2 linked regions of the Homo sapiens genome follow. The protein of the gene in region 1 interacts with the protein of each later gene in a biochemical or structural test. Each region holds a gene or a part of one and is shown in the gene's direction. Other genes may lie near its edges. The genes, in order: HEYL and HAND1.

What was found.
Region 2: the proteins of HEYL (region 1) and HAND1 form a complex in vitro, tested with the Homo sapiens proteins (one study listed by BioGRID).

What each region holds. Positions count from the first base shown.
Region 1 is NC_000001.11:39,635,128-39,645,923, reverse strand, and holds the start of HEYL (hairy/enhancer-of-split related with YRPW motif-like protein), read left to right. Parts: upstream 1-6,280; 5' UTR 6,281-6,298; coding exon 6,299-6,378; intron 6,379-10,796. UniProt on the Homo sapiens protein: Downstream effector of Notch signaling which may be required for cardiovascular development. Transcriptional repressor which binds preferentially to the canonical E box sequence 5'-CACGTG-3'.
Region 2 is NC_000005.10:154,475,228-154,486,351, reverse strand, and holds the start of HAND1 (heart- and neural crest derivatives-expressed protein 1), read left to right. Parts: upstream 1-8,124; 5' UTR 8,125-8,343; coding exon 8,344-8,886; intron 8,887-10,441; coding exon 10,442-10,546; 3' UTR 10,547-11,124. UniProt on the Homo sapiens protein: Transcription factor that plays an essential role in both trophoblast giant cell differentiation and in cardiac morphogenesis. Binds the DNA sequence 5'-NRTCTG-3' (non-canonical E-box). Acts as a transcriptional repressor of SOX15.

The sequences.
Region 1 (10,796 bases):
CACCAGGCATCACTCTCTGCATCTTACCTCATTTAACCCTCACAACAACCCTGTGGAGTGAGTGGCTTTGGTATCATCCCATTTTACAGATGAGAAAACCAAGGCACGGAAAGGCTACTCTTGTCCTGGCTCACTTTCTGTCTCACTGTGTGGCCCTGGGGATGCTTCTGTCCCTCTCTGGGTCTCAGTGTCCTTAGGCTCAAAGGCAGGACAAAGTCCTGCAGAGGGAAGACTGAGTGGCACCTGGGTGCTCCAGGTCCCTTCTTCCCCCTACTTCATCCTGGGCCATGGGCCAGGAAAGTCCTTGTATGTCTCTGCTGTTTTTCCAGGAACAAGGAAGCACCTCCTTCCCAGACAAGGTGGAGGCCTTCAGGAGCCCCTCAGTTCCCCTCCCCATCACTGGACACTCAGCCAATGTTTACCAAACACCTACCTGTGCCAGACGCCGGTAGGCATCAGGGAGATCACAGTGAACAACCCAACATGGTTCCTGCTTTTACAGGGATAACAGCCCAGGCCTCAGACAGACATAAACTATTCCACAATTAATAACCACCAACCACCACCCTGGGCATCTCTGTGCCAATCATCCTCTCCTCTGAGACCCCCCAGATACCTCCACCATGCAGCAGTTAGAGGCTCAGTGTCTGCCACAGTGGTCTCTGGAATCCTGTTCCAGTGTATAGTCTATGTGCAAGCCAACCGTTCAGAGCCCAGGCCATATCAGTTTAGTGATCTGAATACCAGCCCCAAGAGCAGACGGGATTGACCTAGTGTGGGCTCAGTGATAGAGAAAGTATTGCTGCAACTGAAACCTGTCGCTGAAAATCTCCAGCTCGCTCAGCTCTGGGACAGACAGAAAGGAGCGGAAGGTAGAATAGAGGGCCCGTCTCGTCCTCCCTCCCTTTGGATTGAGGCTGCCTGCTACTCCTGGGCCTCTCACCCTTCTCCTTACTTCTGACTCCTTCTCCATCAGTGAGCAAATTCTTCCTGAGGCTCTGCTGGTCCCTGGAGTTGCATGGCGTGCCCTCTCTCATTGACCTGCCCCTCTTTTTTGTTTTTTTTTTTCTAGAGATGGGGTCTCACTCTGTTGCCCAGGTTGGAGTGCATTGGTGCAATCAAGGCTCACTGTAGCCATGACCTCCTGGGCTCAGGTGATCCTCCCACCTCAACCTCCTGAGTAGCTGCTATTACAGGCATGAGCCACTGTGCCTGGCTGACGTGCCCCCTTTTTAAACCTGCTTCCGCAACCCTCTACCCCAGACACTTCCCAGTCCATGACATCCTGCCCTTGTCTCTGCCTCCCTTGCCTCTGTTCATTCATCCCAAGGCATCTGTGACCTCCTGATCACACTTCTTTCCTCTTAGAGCCCCTGGACTGGTGACCAAGCCCCTTTTCTCGGCTCCTGGTTGCCTTGGTCCCTGGTGCTCCATTCTCGCAGGATTCTCCTCCTTCTTCCCAGAGAATCTTTGGCTATTGTTTCCCAGGGTCCTAGCCTAGGTTCTCCTCCCTTCTGGATCTGCACTAGCTCCTTGGGACAGATATGTCATGTATCCCATGTCTTCAGCCACCAAATCTCTCCTCCAGCCCAGACCTCTCCCTGGGTTCTCCTCCTGGGTGTGCGCTAGGTCTCACAAACAGCATGGCCATAGTGAGCTCCTTCCCTTCTCCAGTGTTTCCCCTTGGTGCTTGTCACCTTCATCCATTCAGTCACCCAGACAGGAACCCAGTATCACTCGAATCCAGTCCTTATTGCCTGGCCTATTTTAAGAGTCTCCTGATTGGTCCACCCAGCTCTAATGCAGGTTGCAGTGGTTACCAGCATGAATTCTGGCGCCAGACTGCTTGGTTAAAATCCTATTTCTACCACTTAGTAGCTGTGTGATCTTGGGTAAGTTATTTAACCTCCCTGTATTTCAGGGTAACTTATGAAGAAAAGAGGTTTAATTGGCTCACGGTTCTGCAGGCTGTACAGGAAGCACAGTAGCATCTGCTTCTGGGGAGGCCTCAGGGAGCTTCCAGTCATGGTGGAAGGCAAAAGGGGAACAGGCACGTCACATGGCAAAAACAGGAACAAGAGAGGAAGCAGGGGAGGTGCCACACACCTTTAAACCACCAGATCCATGAAAACTCACTATCATGAGAACAGTACCAAGGGGATGGGACTAAACCATTCATGAAAAATCCACCTCCCTCACCTCCCACCAGGCTCCACCACCAACATTGGGGATTACAATTCAACATGAGATTTGGATGGGGACACAGATCCAAACCATATCACCATTCTATTGATATTCCATGCTTGTTCCTACCTCAGGGCTTTCCACTTGCTGTTCCTTCTGCCTGGAATCCTCTTCCCCAGATCTTCTTAGATTCCCTCTCTCCATTCGGGTCTCTGCATAAGTGATTCATCCTCAGAGACGATCTCCTGACCCCTAAGTAAAATAGCCACCAATCCCCCAGTCACCCTATGTCTCCACCTCACTTTATCTTATTTCACAGCATCTATTAATATCACTGACATTACATTATATGTGTTGCTATATGTTTGTCATCCTAAGCTCTGGCCCCTGCAATGTGAGAATGGCCCAATACAAATGGCAAGAAGGCTGTCGTGGGTGAGTGGACAAGGCAGAAAGTGGTTGGGGATGAAGCTGGAGAGATGGGCAGGGGCCTGAGCTTAGGAGATGGTACCTCCAGTGTGCCCTGAACTGCCCTGGCATGATTATTAGTATTGCCTCCTTTCACTCTCAAAGGTGCCCAGGTTATTACAGTTGTTCTGTGTATAGGGCATGGTAAGCAGTTGGCATTTTATTTCAAATGGGATGTGAAGCGTGTGGATGGTTTTGAGCAGGAAGTGACATGATCTGACTGGCATTTTAAAAGGATCATGACCAAGTCCTTGAAACACTCTTTTGGCTCCTGCCCACACCCCCCCACACACACCCCACTCTCCTCCACTGCCCTTTCAGTCTTCTCTGGCAGCTCTTTCTCTTCTACAACCTTTAAATCTTGGAGTTTCTCCAGACTAGCGGTTCCCAACTGGGGGCGATTTCTCCCCCAAGGGACATTTGGTATTTTATCTGGAGATATTTCTGATGGTCACAACTGGAGCGGGTATAACTGGCATCCAGTGGATAGAGGCCAGGGAGGCTGCTTACCATTCTACAATCCACAGAACAGCCCTACACAATAAAGAATGACCTGACCCAAAATGCCAGTAGTCCTGAGGTTAAGAAACCCTGCACCAGATTAGCACCATCCAATAGGAATATCATGGGAGCCAAATATGCAGTTTAACATTTTCTAGTAGTCACATTTTTAAAAACCTAAAAATAAAACAAGGGAAGTTAACTTTACTAATGTATTTTATTTCATCCAATATTTATACAATATTATCATTGCAACATGTAATCATAACAAAAAATATCAATGAGATAGTTCACACTTAAAAAAATTCTGGTGTGTATTTCATACTCACTGCACATACAGCAATTCAGACCAGCCACATTTCAAGTACTTAATAGCCATAGGGGGTTCGTGGCTATTATATTGATGGCATAGCTCTAGGCTCAGTACTGGATAATATATCACAATGTTTAAGAGCTGTATAATTGACGGGGTGTAGTGGCTTACTCCTGTAATCTTAACACTTTGGGAGGCCAAGGTGGGAAGATTGCTTGGCCCCAGGAGTTGAAGACCAGCCCGGGCAACATAGTGAGATCTCATCTCTACCAAAAAAAATTTTTTTTTTTTTTTTTTTTTTTTTGAGACGGAGTCTTACTCTGTCGCCCAGGCTGGAGTGCAGTGGCGCCATCTTGGCTCACTGCAAGCTCCGCCTCCCGGGTTCACGCCATTCTCCTGACTCAGCCTCCCGAGTAGGTGGGACTACAGGTGCCTGCCACCACGCCTGGCTAATTTTTTGTATTTTTTAGTAGAGATGGGGTTTCACCGTGTTAGGCAGGATGGTCTCGATCTCCTGACCTTGTGATCCGCCTGCCTCAGCCTCCCAAAGTGCTGAGATTACAGGCGTGAGCCACCACACCTGGCAAAATGTTGTTTTTTTAATTAGCTGAGCATGGTGGTATGCCCCTGTAGTCTGAGCTATTCAGGAGGCTGAGGTGGGAGGATCACTTGAGCCAAGGAGTTCAAGGTTTCAGTGAGCTACGATGGCACCACTACACTCTAGCCTGGTGACAGAGTGAATCCTTGTCTTTATTTTTAAAAGAAGGGGGAGTACTGTATAAAGTAATAAAGCCTAATGTTTTGGCTCTGGAACTGAACTGCCTTGTTGAATTCCAGCCCTTCCATTTATTGCCTGTTGGCCTTAGGTGGAGTTAGTCTACCTCTCAGCCTTTGTTTCTCACTTGTAAAGTGGGGATTATAATATTACTACTTTATAGGGTTGTCAAGGATTAAATGAGTTAATATTTACAAAAGACTTAGAATAGTTTCAGGTTTTATAATAAGGGCTCACCAAATGTTAAGTATTTAGCTAGGCCCCTGCTCTGTCTCCATCCACGTTTTCTGAATGATCCCATCTGCTCCCATAGCTTTAAATGCCATCAATTACCTAATGACGTCCAAATTTAATATCCAGCTGAGACCTCTGTTCTGAACTCCATACCCTCTATTTAACTGTGCACTGTATTTTGATGATCCAAGACATCTCACATGAAACGTCCATCACGGGGCCCTTGACCTTCCCCTGCAAATCTGCTCCTCTTCCAATCTTTGCTATCTCAGCCAATTACACAGGGCAGCTATCTGGGAGGCTTCCTTGACTTCCGCCTTTCCAGGGAATGCATAACACATTGTGCAACTTCTCTGTTAGTTGAGGTTTCCACTGACTGGCATGTGCCCACAGAAGTGATGTGAGTGCTGAGGGCATTTGGAATGAGAGTCCATAGTTGTGGCTGGGGCGACCACCAGGGCTTCCTGGTACTGATTGCTCACGACAGTTGCGCCTACCAGTATATATTTGTAAGTCTGTCCGTGTGTATGTGTTTGCATACCTGGCCAAATGGTTGTGTCTGTGGATGTGTGTGGACGGGGGCACAGGAACATTCTTTCCCATCAAGTAATCAAGTGTCCCCCAGCAAGCAGGCCTTGCTGTGGGGATGGAAGCACAGTTATTCTCAGATGACCAACCCGATTCTCCCACTTGAAGGGGTGGCTTCCCTCAGGTCCTGACCTGGTGGCGGGTAAAAAGGAAAAGACCTCTCATATCTAACCCAGCACACCAAGACCTCCTCTATCTCCTCTTCCCTGCCCAAGAAGTCCAGCTCCAGGATGCTCTCATGCAGCTTCCTTTGGAGCCTTAGGAGCTTCTCTGAGGTACTGGGCGCCTGAGGATGACCGGTGAATCTGAGAACTTCCCACAAGTCCCCCTAAGGACAGGGCAGCTAGAGCCCTCCCTGAGTGAACAGTTTGATGGGTTGCCAGAAGCAGAGGCCCCAGGAAGAGAGGCTGGAAGGTATCTTCCCTTTTCCTCTCCTTCTCCCACTTTGAGGCCCTGCCATAGCGTCTAGAAGGAGCCCTTTCCTGGCCTCCTGGCCGCCCAGGACAACTCGACCTCTGGTGAACTGGGAACTGATTCCCAGGGACAACCCACCACTGCCACCACGCCAGGCCTTTAGGGACCTCGGCCAGAGCCCAGCTTTCTCAGATGCGGTGGCCACAACTTCAGCCGTCCCTTTTGGGGGTGACTGCCACCTCTCAGAAGTGTAAGTGTCTTCCCCTTGCCCCCACCACACTATTCCACTTGCTTTGGGCCCCTATGGAGTTGCTGCTGGGGAATTCTTGCTGAGGATCAGGCCACAACCACCACGACTAACTTCGACAAACTTGATGTGTCTGCTGCCTCCAGAACACCAGGAGGCAGGAGCGCGCAGGGTTGACCCTTGCGGAATCCCGGGCATCGAAGCGGCGCCTCTACAGGCCAGCAGCGCCCAGGCGACCCAGGGACAGACGGGGACTCCTGGCTTCCCCGCGGGGCCTCCCAGGGCACCTGCCCAAGGCCACCCAGCGCGCGGCAGCCGAGACAGCGGAGCAGAGCCGGACCTCCCAGCCGTCGATGAAGGCGGCGACCGCCTAGGGCCTTCCCACGGCTCGGCGGCGCGTCACCGCGGGGGCGAGGGGGCGCCTGGGCGCCCGGAGCTGCGGCGCAGGAAAGGGCCCTGGGAAAGGGCGGTGGCGGCGCCCCCGAGGCGGGGCCGGGGCGGGGCCGGGGCGGGGCCTGACTTCCCGACTGGGAGCCTTAGCCGCGGGGCTGAGACCAGGCAGCCTGCGTTCGCCATGAAGCGACCCAAGGAGCCGAGCGGCTCCGACGGGGAGTCCGACGGACCCATCGACGTGGGCCAAGAGGGCCAGCTGAGGTAAGGGCCGGGATGCGGGGACCGAGCAGGCGGAGGGCGAGCGGGGTGGGGGTCGGCCCGACGGGCTCGCCGAGCAGGCGGGCCAGCCCTCCAGCACCGCCTGGGCAGAGGCAGGTGAGCGCGGGGGCCACAGGTGTCGGCGTAGGGGGCGTGTGCGGGCCGTGCCGTTACACGCACGAGTGCCTGGATCCTGCGCGCTCTCGGTCGTGCAGGGCTGGGGATGCTGGCAGGGAGGGAGAGTTCAGCTCGGGGGATCAGGTGGCTAGTGGGTTATCATCTATCTGTTGAAGTGGCCTAGGGGAGGCCATTGGCAGGTTTTCCCTGGAGATCTTAGAAAACTCTCATAGACTGATGGTACTCTGGCCCCTGTCTGGAATCTGCTGACGATGCAGAGTAACCCCATCCTTTCCCAATTTTACCCTAGTTTGGATGCAGTTTTCATGTAGTCCACAAATTATTTCAGGAAGAAGAAAATTTGTCCTCCTTTGAGCAAATTGGAGTTTGGATTTAGGGACTTAGTATTGAAGAAAATAATAAGCGACTTGCAAGGGCCTAGACTCTAATTCCAATGTTCCTCCTATCGTGCCCCCATACTGCCAGTGTCTTTCAGCTCCTGGTAGATAGTCTGACCTGCTTCAAACCTGTCGAACAAACTGCGCTTGTATAGTTCTGCTACCTCGCAGTTCTGTAAACTGTCTAAGCTTCAGTTTCCTTATCTGTTAAATGAGCATGAATAATAGAACCAACTTCATGGAAATATTGGGAAAACCAAATGAGGCAAAGTATGTCAAGGGCTTAGCACAGCACATGCCTAGGTACACACCATGTGATTCCCAGCACCCTGAAAGAGCTGCAGGGCTGACTGGGAGTCTGCAGACCTGGGTCCCAGCCCCAAATCTGCCACCAACTCACTATGTGGTCTTGGGCCATTGGTTTCCCTGACAGAGTCTGTCATCAGTTTCCCCATCAGTAAAACAAAGACAGCAGTGGAAAAGAAAGGGATATACTTCATCTCTCTTGGCTCATCTAGACTTGACTCTCTAGAACAGAATTGGAGGGGAATTCAGTTAATTCTTTCTTTCTTTCTTTTTGACATGGTCTCACTCTGTTGCCCATGCTGGAGTGCAGTGGCATGATCATAGCTCATGGCAACCTTGATCTCCTGGGCTTAAGTGATCCTCCTGCCTTGGCCTCCCAAAGTGTTGGGATTACAGACATAAGCCAGTGAGCCAGGCCCAGTTAATTCTTAGGGATGTTTTTGAGGACATTTTGTAATTTTAGTGCTCTCCAGTTTTCTGAGATCCAAGGATCCTGCCTCAGTCTCAAATCCCAGGAAAATGCCATAATAGATATTCCTCTTGCAGCCTGTACATTTGTTTTTAGGGAGTATAACACAACTCGCTATGCAACGTATTAGCCTTTCTTAATTGTTTAGCAGAAACTGCTATTTAGAAAAGCAGTTATCTTAGCCTGTGCCTGTTAAGGGCCAGGAAAGGGCACAGCACCACGTGGTGGTGGTGGAGCGGGGTCTCAAATTCAATGGCATTGGGTCTTCATAGATCAGAGGCACAAAATTGATGCCAGAGAACTAGGTTGATCAGAGCTGGCTTCTGTCCTCCACAAGTTTGCAGCCCAGTCAGTGACCTGCCAGGTCATAAAAACACCATGGACAGGATGGAAAGGAGACAGACTGTGGGCTGTGAGGGCACTTAAGCAAAGAGAGGTCACTCTTAATCAAAGATGGCAAGGAGGGCTTCTTGAAGATAGTAGCATCTGGGCAACTGCTTACATGAGGCATAAAGGATCAGTGGGCAGTTTTTTCCTATACATACAGCATTTCCTATATATACAGAGCCCATTTTTAGACACTGTTCTTAGAGGAGCAGACCCCTCTGAGGAGAGAAAGCAGCTGGACATCTGGCAGAGGCTGACTTATAGATGCCCCTTTGTAGCACTCACCAAAGGGCCCTTCCCCCAGCAGACATCAATGCTTCAATTCAGGGAGCACTGAACGATGCCTGCTGTGGCCCAGACCCTGGGCTGGGCATAGGGGGCCCAGATGTATCCTGCTCAGCCTCTGCCCTCAGGGAACTCTCAGGGAAGAAGAGCTTCATGTACAAAGAAAGCAGATAAACACTGACAAAGGCCGCAGGACGGAGGCAGCCAGCCTCTCGGGGTCAGGGGCAGGGCGCAAAACCCCCACACTCAGAAACGTGAGAGTAAAGAGCAGGGTGTGTTCCACCATCACTGTGGCATCTGCCTGGTGGCAGTCCTGCCACATCTGTGAAACTCACCCACAGAGCTCTCATCTCAACCTGGCCCCATGACGCAGGATGAGTCCAAACTGAGAGTACAGCCTCTCCTCTCCCTCTGCAAACATCTAATGAGCACCTGCCACATGTCAGACACTGGATCAGGGTCCTGTTCCTGCACAATATAAGGTGGTGGTCTTGGAGTCAGATAGACCTGAGTTTGAATTTTACCACCATTAACTTTGGCCAGTGACTTTTACCCCTTTCTGAACCTCAGTTTTCTCGCGTTCAAAATGGGAATACATTAGCACTCCTGCCTCGCAGGATAAGGTTTGATGAAGTAACATACATAAAGTTACATAGCTCCCTGCTTTGGCACAAAGTAACTTCCAATAAACGTTGCTGTCAAAGCGGTCACCATTCAGTTGGGGGGCAACATATTTATGAGACAGCATGGTCTAATGAAAAGACCGGAAGTGTGAAGACTGGACTTACTGGAGTGATTCTTAACTCCAGTGTCTCTGTCACTCCACCTGTAAAATGATTATTTTTCCTAAATGTGAAATGGCCCAAAAAATACTTCACTTACAGTGCTATTGTGCAATAAATTAGACAAATGGATGTGGAAGTGCAGTATAGAACAAAAAGCACTGGCTCTGAGATCTACATGACGGGATGATGTATATATGGGGTGCACTGGCAAAAGCCCCAGATTAAAAGCCACTAGAGGCCGGGCACGGTGGCTCACGCCTGTAATCCCAGCACTTTGGGAGGCTGAGGTGGGTGGATCACGAGGTCAAGAGATCGAGACCATCCTGGCTAATATGGTGAAACCCCATCTCTACTAAAAATACAAAAAATTAGCTGGGCATGGTGACACGTGCCTGTAGTCCCAGTTACTTGGAAGGCTGAGACAGGAGAATCACTTGAACCTGGGAGGCGGAGGTTGCAGTGAGCTGAGATTGTGCCACTGCACTCCAGCCTGGGTGACAGAGTAAGACTCTGTCTCAAAAAAGAAAAGAAAAAAAAAAAAAAGCTACTAGAGTAGACCTGGCTGTAGTTCCGATTTTCCTCTAATTTGCTGTGTGGCCTGGGGAAGATCCCTTCCCCTCTGAGTTTCCTTATTTTACAAATGGACTCAGTTCTCTCTGAGATTCCTTCATTTGGGACATTGTGATTCTGCCTTTGGCTGACACAAAATGATTAGGGTCATCTGCAAGGGTTCCACGGGGGAGTTCCCAGGGGAAGTCAGCACTGAGGGTGGTCAGGACCACCTGGAAAGCTTCCCCCCATAAGAGACCGCCCCAGAATTCTGGCTAGGAGCCACTAGAGGCCTATGGAGCAGATCTTGATGGTCAACATATCTTCTCTGGGTCCATGAAAATCTGTGTCATTTTCAGATTCTCAGACAAGAGAATCCCACACCTCATCCCACTGTCAGGGCCAGATCGCGGGCTGGAAGGGAGCTCTGGCTGGGCTCTTGGGAACTTTAAAAATAAGGGGACCGGAGGGCTATTCAGACAGACAGGAAGTAGGAATTAGAAGGGAAAAAATGCTGAAGCGGAGCCAGAAGATGCGGATTCCCTGCTGGCTTTGCTCCTTAGCAGCTGGGTAGGCTGGGCAACCTGCTTTAGCTCCCTGAAGCTCAGCAACCTCATCTGTAATATGGGCTTTTGTAAGGCTCAAAGGAGGGAAAGACATATAATGTTGCCAAGAAAACTGTAATGTGAGGTTTGCCTCTGAGATATGGGAAGAGGAGAAGGGGGGAAATAATACGACAGGGACAAGCTGACCAGGAGATTGGAAAAAGGAATGGCAGCACTGCTTTGCCCTGAAATGGGTGCGTCAGCCTCCAACAGATGGTCCCAGCGGAGGGATCAGGCTGAGAGGCAGTGACGTGTGCAAGGCTAACCTAATACCCGGAAAGACGCTTTATCAAGCTGGGGGGAACAAAGGCCGTGTTTCTTAGTGTGTCTTGGCTCTTGGGGTTTGTCCCCAGTGAACCAGTGAGGCTTTGTAAACAAGCTGCCCCATAGATCTCAAGATCTGGCCTTACAAGCCCTGGACCTAGCTTGCTGGGTCCTCCCTCCCAGGAGCTATTATAGACCTCTTACCAGGTCGGCTTGTCCAGATGTTTGGGTGGGAGATATCCTTTTCCAGATGTGT
Region 2 (11,124 bases), on another chromosome or scaffold:
TCCATTACAATCTGACGCAAAATGTTAGGATGCATCTGCCAGCACCCAGGCTCCATAGATCTCCTCCAGGCTCAGAGAGGGTCTCTTCGGCAAGCAAGCTGATTAGTGTGTGGTTCCAACCAATGTTTATCCTCTCTGGCTCTGTGGCAAACGCCCTTGGAAAAACCTGGATCCATTGATGCTTGGTCGACTGGTACATTCAGATTCACTCAATTAGAACACCCAGTTTGAGACATAATGGGTTTTGGCGAGCTCCATAGACTGATAGGTTTTTATACACATGCACAGAAAGATTTGATTTCCTCTGCGGAATTTATGGCAGGGGAGAAGAGGTAATTACATTAATTTCTGGTCTGGTTTCTGGGGCTTTCCCTTCTGTTCTCTCTTCTCCTGCCACTTTTTTTTTTTAAGTAGACTTTTTTGGGACCTTGCTTGTATGGATGAAAATGAATTTAATAACTGCCAACAGTTGGTTTGAGTTTGAGGCTGGGTTCCACTGTGACTTCTTGTTCTTTGAGCCGTGCTCTGGGTGAGTTTTAGGAAGCTAATGTGGACAATCTTGTATCCTCTGGTGTGTGTGGGTGAGATGTTGGGGGTGTCCATGTGGCTAGGGAGCAATGTTCACACTGGGAAGAGGTGCTCAAACCCAGGCTTTCTGGAAGGGAACTTGCTCTAATAGTTGATAATGAAGTGAAAACCAAAGTGTGCTCCCGTTTCTTCAGTCACCATTCATGAATCGCCACTTTTTTTTTTTCCCTAATTTCTGTTTTTTCTGTCGTTCACTTCTCTTTACACCTCTCCCTTCCAGGGCAAAACTCAGCTGCAGCGTGGAAATAGTAAGGCAGAAAGAGGCTGAAATCCAGAAGGGTGCTGGTAAGATTGACCATGGTAATGAAGAGGATCAGCACAGTTTACCGTGTTTGCAGTGTTCTTACTCCACTCCCGTCTCCTTTCTGATGCCAAGGCTCTTCTATCCATCCTTGACTTTTTAACAAAGGACTTCCCTCATTAAACTGAAGAGACAAAGGAGACTCCTGAGGGATTTAGAAATTCAATGGAAAAAGCAAAAAAAACAAAACAAAAAAACTCTCAGAGCACTTAACTTCTCTCCCAAAGGACCAGAGAGCCTGCCAATTCCCCAGCAATGCCAGAGCTAAGCATTTTCCCAGTGTCAACATTAAATCCCTTTTTTGTTTTTCTCTTTTAAAGTGTGTTTACAATTGACCATTATGGGAAAGATGATGGATGTGGCCTGGCCCCGTTTAAAATAATAAGGCTAATAATGATACAGTTGTTTCGTGCATACGGACTCTTTCTGAAAGCCTGTGAGCAGAAGGAAAGGGTTGAGGAGCCCAGTGTTTTCAACTTAAGTGTAGCCAGCTGCCGATCATCCCCACGACCCATTGCTAGCTATAACACTTATGCTCCGGCAGACTTCGGAACCTCTTGGCTCCTGCATGCTCTTTTGGAGAAAAGAGCACAGAAGTTTTGAATGAATCTCCAGACCCTGTCCCTGAGATAGCAAGGCTTAGATGGACAAGCCTGGAGTGGACAGCTTGCATTGTGCCCCATGGGGACTCTGCCAGAGAAGCGCATGATCCTTAAGACAGAGATATGGCTCAGTCCTGTATTCCAGGAGAAAGTAGACTCAATGTTTGCTCATGAAATGTCCCTGCGTCCAGCTCTGCTGGTCGTGTCCCTGGCGAAGACTCCCCACCTATGTAGCCAGCAGCATCTGTCCTTGGATACACCATCCCGGCTCTAGCTTTTCCCCAGTAATCAGCTGGCTTTCGCTGGCAGGAGGACCCAGGAGATAGGTAAAGTGGGTTGATTCAGTCCTTGCTGTGGAATTCAGATTAGACTGGGAAAGGAAAAAATTCTCCTGACCAGGGATGCAACAGTCAGGCAGTGAGAATGACCTTCGTGACAATGAGCCGAGATAAGCCTCTTGGCATGAAACAGCTCGGCAGGCAATGATCAGTGGTCTAGGGATTGGCTACAAGTGGCCCGACCCGACCCGGGGAGCAACCGAGCACCAGGAAACTAACCAGCATGTGAGGAACAAAAAAAATCTCCCAATATGCCGAAAACAGCCTGGTGCACAGCAAAACTTCGTTAACAGGCGGCCTGGAGCTGAGTGCTGTGAAGCTGACCAGAATGAAATTGCCCTGAAAGCAACGGGACTGGGTAAAAGAAACCGGAGTAAAATCCACCTGCCTGCTAGTGTGCAACTAACCACTGCGAGGGATGGGAGAAGGGAGGGTCTCGGAGGGCCGCAGGGTGGACCGGGAGGAGACAGGACTCCTGGTGTTCTGGAGAACCTGACCGAGCTGCTTCGGGGATGGGGGAGGGAGGTGTCCAGTGCCTTTTGATTTACAATCGCTGCGCCCCAAGCGATCCCATAAATTTGGGGGCCGTTTTCACCAAAACCGTGAGTTACGATTTTTCAAATAAATACATTTTCCAATCAGACCGGGTTCTGTTTAGGTTGAACGCGTCCCGAAGCAGACATCTCTCTGTGCGGAAAATACACAGAGGAGGAAACGGAGCCGGGACGAAGCTCAGACGACATAAAAACTTATGTAAACACATTGTCATTTACGGGCTTCGGAAGAGAAAGAGAATGAGGGGAGGAAGACAGAAAAAGTTGGGGGAAACACATACATGTTTAATTCTCCCTCGAATCCTCAGGTCCTAGCCCAGAGGGAGGTTAGAAAATGTAATATTCTTTTTCCATAAGCTTGATTTATGTTACTCATTGGACAATAGGCAGCAGCAGGTTTACCTTAAATAGATTTTGTATTTTTGAGGCCTGTTACAGGCCTGAGAATGAGCACAAATGACCCCCCCCCCTCGTACACACACACAGCCACACACATATATGCATAGGCACTCTCTCCTAGTTTTTCTTTAAGAAAGAGCGTGGAGGAGATAAACCAAAATGAATTATTTTAGCAGGGGAGGGTCGTCGATTTCTATCTGTGTGCCCTTGGGCAAGTCTCTCCCCATCCTCTGGGCCTGTGTTTTGCCCGTAATCAGGGGCTACCGTTGCGCAGAAAAGCATTGACACATAATTCTGTGCACAATGGCAAGAACCTCCTGGCCAAAATGTAAAGAACGTCACTTCCTGCTTGGACCCTTTCTGGCCTGACCACCCTCGTCTCAGGAAAGAAGGTAATAAGGGGAGACAGAGGCTGCTGTTCACCCCAGGTCCCCTCTGGAGATCTGGGCTTTAGCCGCGCGTCTGCCACTCATCGGCCGTGTGCCCTTAGGAAAGTTCCTTCCCCTCTCTGGGCTAGTTTCCCGTCTGCAAACAGAACCTTGGAGCTCCCAGGAGCAATCTACTCCGTGCCTATCTCTTCCCTGCCCCGACTGTCCCCCATCCCTGGGAGCAGGCTGGGCCAGATTGGAAAGTCCTAGGTCCTCTTCAGACATGGCAGAGAAATGTTTAAGGGATTTGCGCGCTCAAGCTGCGGGGTAAATGGTCCGCGGGCTGATTTATGGCGCGTTACTGCGCGACGCGATTCCCCAAGACAGCGAGAATATTTTACACCGCGCTAATATAAACAGGCGGCCGGCCGGGTCCTTTTTATGGAGTTCCTGTAATTACCCGGGCCCTGACAGGTCCTTGATTTACTGCCCTATTTAGATAAGGGGTCCGGTGCGGGGATTGCCCGTGGCGTCAAGGTCACGGGACTGCGGCGGGAGAAGGTTTTGCGGTAGGCGCCGCGGCCTGGGCTTCCAGAGGCCTGCCAGTCCGGGGGGCGCGGATAGGGGTGAGGGTAGGAGAGGGGCTAGGGCAAGAGCGAGACCCCACCACTGCAGAACGTCCAGGCTTGAGGGACCTTCGCATTGCCCGGGTACAGCTGTCCTACTGTTATGGTTGGGGGAACTGAGTCCCGTAGGTGACAAGACTGCACCCCCCACCAAGTCATTTAGGGAGGGACATGGGGGTGGAGGGTGGAATCTGGAACTGGAATTCGGGTCTCTGGCAACATAATTCCTACACCTGGCGATGTCTCTGTATCTCCAGTCTTATGATGGCTGGGTTGTGTAGGGTCAGTAGGGAATGGGAAGGAACCTAAGGCAGTCAGAAGCAGCTAGGTCAGGTCAGAACAGAGCCCTGCAAGGAGGATTCAGTGTCCTGGTCCTTCTCCCCATCCAGAGCTTTGTAGTCATGTGGCGGCATGTAATTCCATTTCCGCCCCTATGAAATTAATATTCCTAAAAACAGAGCCACCATTTATCCAGGTTTACTGTCACTGTGCTAAGAGCCTCGCCTTGTGCTTACTCTTACGCCAGCCCTCCACAGAGGTTATTATTGTCCTCCAATTTACAGAAGAGAAAACTGAGGTGTAGAAGCTTCACACAGGGAGGAATGATGTGCACAGTTTTAACTCAGATGGGCCCGATTCCATAGCAAGGTGGAATGTGTTTTATGTGCATAAGCCCTCTACTTTGTAAAACAGGGTAAAGAAGAGTTCCTGCCGGGTCTCACCACTACAACTGGGGGAAGAAACGAGAAGCCTGCATTTGAAAATACTAAGAAGGCCAACCCCCCTGAAGGCACTCTTTAGGTGAGCAAGGTTCGTTAAGAGGAGGCTGCAGGGGCAGTGTGGGCTAGGACCCTGGGAGTTCTAGTCCTTGGTCTGTTGAGGTAGGCAAGAGGAAAGCGGAGTCCTTCTGTAGGGATCCCTGAGCTGAGCACTAAGTCCCAGGAGGAACCAGGGCAGGGTCCCTGCAATAGTGAGGAGCTGGGAATTCCAGAATTCCAGACTATCAATCCTATTCCCTTCTTCTGCAACTGGGGAAACTGAGGCTCGGACTGGAAAGGAACAAAGAGGTGCTAGATAGGGAAAGCCAGGACTCTTGCCTGTCACATCTCTTGCCTGCCAGCCTAAAGCAATTTTAGCCAAAATCCTAGGTCTCAGACCTCCTCCTACAATATAGCTTGGGCAGAGATAGAGAACAACCTTACAAGGTCCCCACCATCCCGGGAGTTCTGCTGCTCTCCACGGACTACAGTAAAGCATTTTGGGGTCTCTGAGAAGGCAGTCTAGAGCCTAGTTGTACTGCAGTCTCCCCCGACGTCATCCTGCTGGGGGTTGCCCCAGCCCCAAGCCTCAGGAGATCCCTTAGGGCTGAGTTTCTGGTGGGGGCACCGCTTGAAAAATGACACTGAATACCTTCTCTAGGTTGGGGAACAGTGCTTTCCACATCACTGGCAGCTGGAGACACCCTGCTCTTTAAGACCCATGGGGGGCTGCCAGGTAGTCTCAGGGGCCCTCAAGGGGTGTCATAGGACTGGGACTCCTCACCCAGTACTGATAATGCATTCCCCACCACACTAACCAGGCCAGATATATGGGGGATGTATACAACCTTGAGTGATCTGTGTAACATCATAAAAGCAACTAGGACTCATATGGGCAGGCGCGTGGGCCACACATTTGTATGTGTGTTATGTGTGAGCATGTGAGAACCTCTATTTGTGAGCACCTGTGCATATGTAGTAGATATTGTGACTGTGTACTTGTGCACTGAAGGCTTAGCGGTGACACTGAGAATATACAAAATGTATGATGGGATTTTGGAAGTTTGTGTTGCGAATACAATTGTGGAGAATCTTAGGAAGATACAAGCTGGTTTAAATTGTGGCAATGAGATTATGTGTGAAACCCTGCATTTGTGTAGTATTCAGAATTTATGTGTTTCTACCATATGACTTTGGTCTCTGTGCATGCCTGAATGGAGGATTGGGAGCGGCTCCCAGGTGTAACACATCTGAAGCGTGATGAGTATGTACCCTGTGGGTGACAGAGAGACAATGTGTAAAATCCTAGGAATGCATGAATGCTGTGTGTACCGTGGCTGTGCGTATTACTGTGAGAATACACATACTTTTGGGCGTCTTATGAAGATACGGGCTTTTGTGTACGGCGGCAAGGTTTTGTGAGCCCTTGTGCATGTACCTGTGAATGTATAATCTGAGGGCCTAGTGTGCCGCTCTGAGAGGCACTGTTGCAGATTGTACTTGGATTAGGACAAAGACTGGGCGTGTGTTGAGGATTGTGTGTTGAGGTCCTTCTCTCCACAGCGTAATTACTCTCTACCTGCGCTCTTTCTAGAATGCCTCCAGGCCAGGGAGGCTTGGGACCCCGCAGAGCCGCCGCAGCAGCGGGCCCCCAGCGCTCCCTCCCCGCGTGCCTCCGGCTCCGCGCTCTGCCCTACCCCAGCGCTGCTGGCGCCAGGCGCCGGGGAGAGCGGGGGGTTTCCAGCCCGCCTCGGGCAGGAAACCAGGACCTCCCTGCACCACCCCCCCATGCACCTCCAGGGCCCACAGCCCTGCTGAGCTCCCACAGGTGGAACCAGCAGGCCCAGGCTTTTGTCTCCGTCACTCCTGTATGTAACCCCCCACCCTTCATTCACTCTCTTGTCCAGGAGTGGAATTCCACTCATCCACTCCCTACCGGACCTCGAGAAAATCGCTCTTCTTCTCTGGGCTTCACGTTCCATATCTGTTCAAGGAGAGAATGGGCCTTTCTCCCTCTGTCTTTGGACTAGTAACTATGATAGGCACATAGTAGGCATCAATAAATAATTGTTGAATGAATGGGTGAATGATTTGCCTTCTAAAAAGAGCACTCACATTAACTTCTCCTTTCCCCCTCCCCTCGACTTTGCTTTGAAGAGAGGCACACTCCCTCTACCACACCGAGGGAGGGGGCGTTGAGCTGAGAAAGGTTGAGAGAATGAGGGACCCAGGTAGGTGGACATCGGCCAAGAAAGGAACCACAGCGGGAGGTAAGACCGAGAGTCCCCAGCTTGAAGCGTCACCACTCCGGGATTCCCAGATTCCAACGCGAGCCTGGGGAAAGCCCACAGTGGAGAGAGTCCGGCTGGCAGGGAATGGCCCTACCCCCGGGGTGAAATCTCGGAGGGTCGTGCAGCCGAGTCGCGCCTCTGCGCTGATGCGTGAGAGATGCCGGACGTCGCGTTTGCCTGTGCGAGCCTCGCGGATGCTGTGCAGTCTTGGTCCCCTCTGCGTGTGTCTAACGCCGAATGCTGGTGTCTCGAGGTGTGAGCTTCGGGGCCGGTGTCTTTAAAGAACCAAAGATTCTTAAGGAGTGATGATCTGGGTAGAGCGGCCCGACGTAGCCGCGCTCCCAGGTCTCGGTGCGAGTCCTGCGGACAGACCAGAGGAGACCTGCTGGCCAGATGCCCCGGGCCCAAGGCGGACGCCAGACTGTCTCTGCGCCAGCCGGGCTGGCCTTCGGAATGGATCAGGCACCCGGGAGGCCGGAGTGGATCTCAGACCCTCAAGCCGGGAACAAACCCGTCGATGCCCGTGGGCCTGGAGTCCGCCTCCTCCTTCCCGCCCCACCCCTACCCCTGCCTCCGAAAGGCTTCTTCGCTGGTCAGTAGCTGCGTGCCCGTCTGCCTGAGGCTGGGTCAGAATTGGCGGGCTGGTAACGACCCCGTGCACAAGCGGCTCCCAGTCTCTCCAGAAAGGGCCGATGACTAAGGGGTGGGGGTGGGGGCGGAGGGCTGGAAGGTGTTAGGGAAGAACGTTAGCGGCCTATCCTGTCTTCAGCAGCGCCCTCTCATCTTCTAGCTCTGACGCCGAGCAGAGCAGTTGGAGCTCGGGACTGGGAACTGCTGGAATTCCTATTTAGACTTCTAGACAGTCTAGAAACAAGAACCTTTCTTTCCCTGGGCCTCAGTTTCCTTGTCTGTAAAATCAAAAGGCGGGCTCTAGGTGTAGGCCTTCTTTTCGCTTGGTGATTCTGGATTCCTTTCCTTGGATCCGTGGGGAGGGGGTGGCAGCAACAGTCCAGGGCGTTGGCCGTCCTGTGCCTCAAGTACGTAGTCCCCGTGCCCGCCCCCTCAACACCCCCAGCAGCCCGCCCCCCTAAGCCCGCAGAGCAGGGAGCTGAGTGGGAGGGGCAGAGGCGGGGCCGGTTCCCAGTCCCTGCTGGCGGACTAGAGTGGCGCGGGCTGAGCGTAAAACCTGGGATAGCCACTCCCCCTTTTCCTTATCCCCGCCCCCCTGCCATTGGCTCCCGGGAGAGGTTGACATCAAAGCCGCGGTCTTATATAAGCCAGATCCGCAGGGGAGTCCGCAGAAGGGTTAAACAGGTCTTTGGGCTTCGGCGACCTCGCCCGCGGCAGAAACCGGTAAGAAGACAGTGGGCTGCGCGTCTCATTTTCAGCCTTGCCCGGACTCTCCCAAAGCCGGCGCCCAGTAGTGGCTCCAGAGCCCACAGGTGGCCCCCGGCAGTCTCTGGGGCGCATGGAGCGGCGTTAATAGGGCTGGCGGCGCAGGCCAGTAGCCGCTCCAACATGAACCTCGTGGGCAGCTACGCACACCATCACCACCATCACCACCCGCACCCTGCGCACCCCATGCTCCACGAACCCTTCCTCTTCGGTCCGGCCTCGCGCTGTCATCAGGAAAGGCCCTACTTCCAGAGCTGGCTGCTGAGCCCGGCTGACGCTGCCCCGGACTTCCCTGCGGGCGGGCCGCCGCCCGCGGCCGCTGCAGCCGCCACCGCCTATGGTCCTGACGCCAGGCCTGGGCAGAGCCCCGGGCGGCTGGAGGCGCTTGGCGGCCGTCTTGGCCGGCGGAAAGGCTCAGGACCCAAGAAGGAGCGGAGACGCACTGAGAGCATTAACAGCGCATTCGCGGAGTTGCGCGAGTGCATCCCCAACGTGCCGGCCGACACCAAGCTCTCCAAGATCAAGACTCTGCGCCTAGCCACCAGCTACATCGCCTACCTGATGGACGTGCTGGCCAAGGATGCACAGTCTGGCGATCCCGAGGCCTTCAAGGCTGAACTCAAGAAGGCGGATGGCGGCCGTGAGAGCAAGCGGAAAAGGGAGCTGGTGAGTCCTGGGGCTTGCATGCTCCAGCCAAGGGTGCAGGAGCGGTGAGCAGCCTCAGGCCATGCAGGTAGTCGAAGGAGGCTGTGTTGTCCTGTGTCCGATTTGGAAAGGTTGGGAAGAGTTCTGAGATGGTTGGTCACAGCGTGCGATCCTGTGCATGGAGGGAGGCAGATTCGTCATAGAATTCATTTGTAATACGGGAGAGTGTTTGTAATACTGAGTGAATAATCTGTTTGGAGCCTCGGACCCTCCAAAAATGCACACACCACAGGTTTTGCTTCCAATTTGGAGAAGTCCTGATTCATTCCTGGGCTCTCCTGGAAGCCAGGTTAAGAATATGTGTTAAAGTTCTTTACTTTGAGTTTGAATTTATGTGCCCGGGCTCGGTTCCTGTTTTCAAAGGGCCTTTGCTGGACCGGCTAGTCTACTTCCATCATTGTATAAATAGGGAAACTGAGGGCCCAGAGTGGGTCGGGGCAGGAAAAGCACCTATCTGAGGAGTCCAGGGTGGAGGTGAGGTAAAACAGATCGGGTCTTCTACTCAGTCCAGGGCCAGTTCTGGTTCTCCCCATGGACTGGTTCTGAGGACGACTTCAGTGGCTTTGCATGTAAATAAGAGCCACTTCTTTTAGCTTTGGAGAGCGCAGTCTCGTCTTGGCCTTCTTGATCCTCTCCGGTTAGGGTGACACTTCCTGGCACTCGGTCTGGCTGTCCGGGGCTGGGGGCTTCTGAGCGCTGGGTTTTCAGGCTGGCCAATCAGTTTCTCTAGGTTGGGGGGCTTAAGGCCGTAGCGGAGTGGAGCCAGCTGAAGCGCCCCACCTGGTTTATCCAACCTGCGGGGGCCTGTGGTAAACTGACGAAAGCTCATCCAGGGACGAGGGAAAGATAAATAGGCATCGAGTCTCTAAACGGCTGCCCCGGACTGGGGATGGTGCAGGCCGGCTTCTTTCGAGGTGCGGCGCCTCGAAAGAAGTTGTTATTGGGCGGATCCCGGCCCCCACGCGTCGCCGCCTCCTTCAAGTAGCACCGCTTGGTTCCTGCTGAAAGAGCGGGAAGGAGGACGCTAGGCCAGCTCGACTCCCCGCTCTTTTACCTCCGTATCTGAGGCTCCCAGCTCCGGCTTAGGGGGCCCCAAGCCTGCATCCAAGCCCTGATGTTTAAACCAGGTTGGGAGGCTGGCGGAAGTGTGTGGGGTGCAGCGAGAGCGGGAGAACCGTGGATTTCCACCCCTCCCTTCCAATATCCTGGGATCTCCCTTAGGTGTCCTAAAGCCAAATCAACGCGCGTCAGTTTCACCAGACGCAGAACATTTTCCTTACCAAACCTCCCGAAGCTGCCCAGCCCATCCCGGGTCCCAGGAACTCCGCGCATAAAGGCAAATTTACGAGCCTGTTTGCCTATTTCGCAAACAGAAATCCGTCACTTATTTAAAGACTCCCAGTTACTGCTCCCGACACCTTCCCCTCCTCCTCATCTTACCCCATGCCGGGCGATCGGAGCAGAAAAATTAAAACCTGTCTCTCCCGCCTCTTTTCTTCTGTGTGTCCTTTGGCAGCAGCAGCACGAAGGTTTTCCTCCTGCCCTGGGCCCAGTCGAGAAGAGGATTAAAGGACGCACCGGCTGGCCGCAGCAAGTCTGGGCGCTGGAGTTAAACCAGTGAGCCGAGGCCCGCGCCGAGGACCTGGCCAGGCCAGCCACTCCTGAAGCCCCGGGAGGAGAGGAAGGCAGCGGCGAACGCCAGGCTCTGGGCTCCGGCGACTGGTGCTACGCATCCCGCGGAGCTTCTGCTGAGCGCCGGCAGGTCGTCGGCTGCAACCACACACTTGGATCGCACGTGCAATGTCCTTTGATTTTTTTTAATACATTAAGAGAAAGAGAAATATATATATATCCACCCCCAGCCCAACCGAGGGCGGCCCTTGGCGGCAACATGCAAGAAGGAGGGACTGTCGAACCCAAGGGCTCAAAGACGCACTCTTCCACCCTTTTGGAGCGAATTTAGAACCTCAGCCCTATCTCCATTTCCCTATCTGGCTCTTTCTCTCTTGTCCCTCCATATGATCCGCCCCGACGCCGTCTTCTCTAATTAAAATGCAATAAGGAATCAATTCTTTTCTGCCTGAGAAAGAGAACCAGACGCAGGAAGATGAAAGGCTGCCCTTTGTTCTTCGAATCGTGGTGGTTTTATTTTATTTTTCTTTTTGTCGCTGCACTTCCTGTTTAGTTCCAAGGGAAACA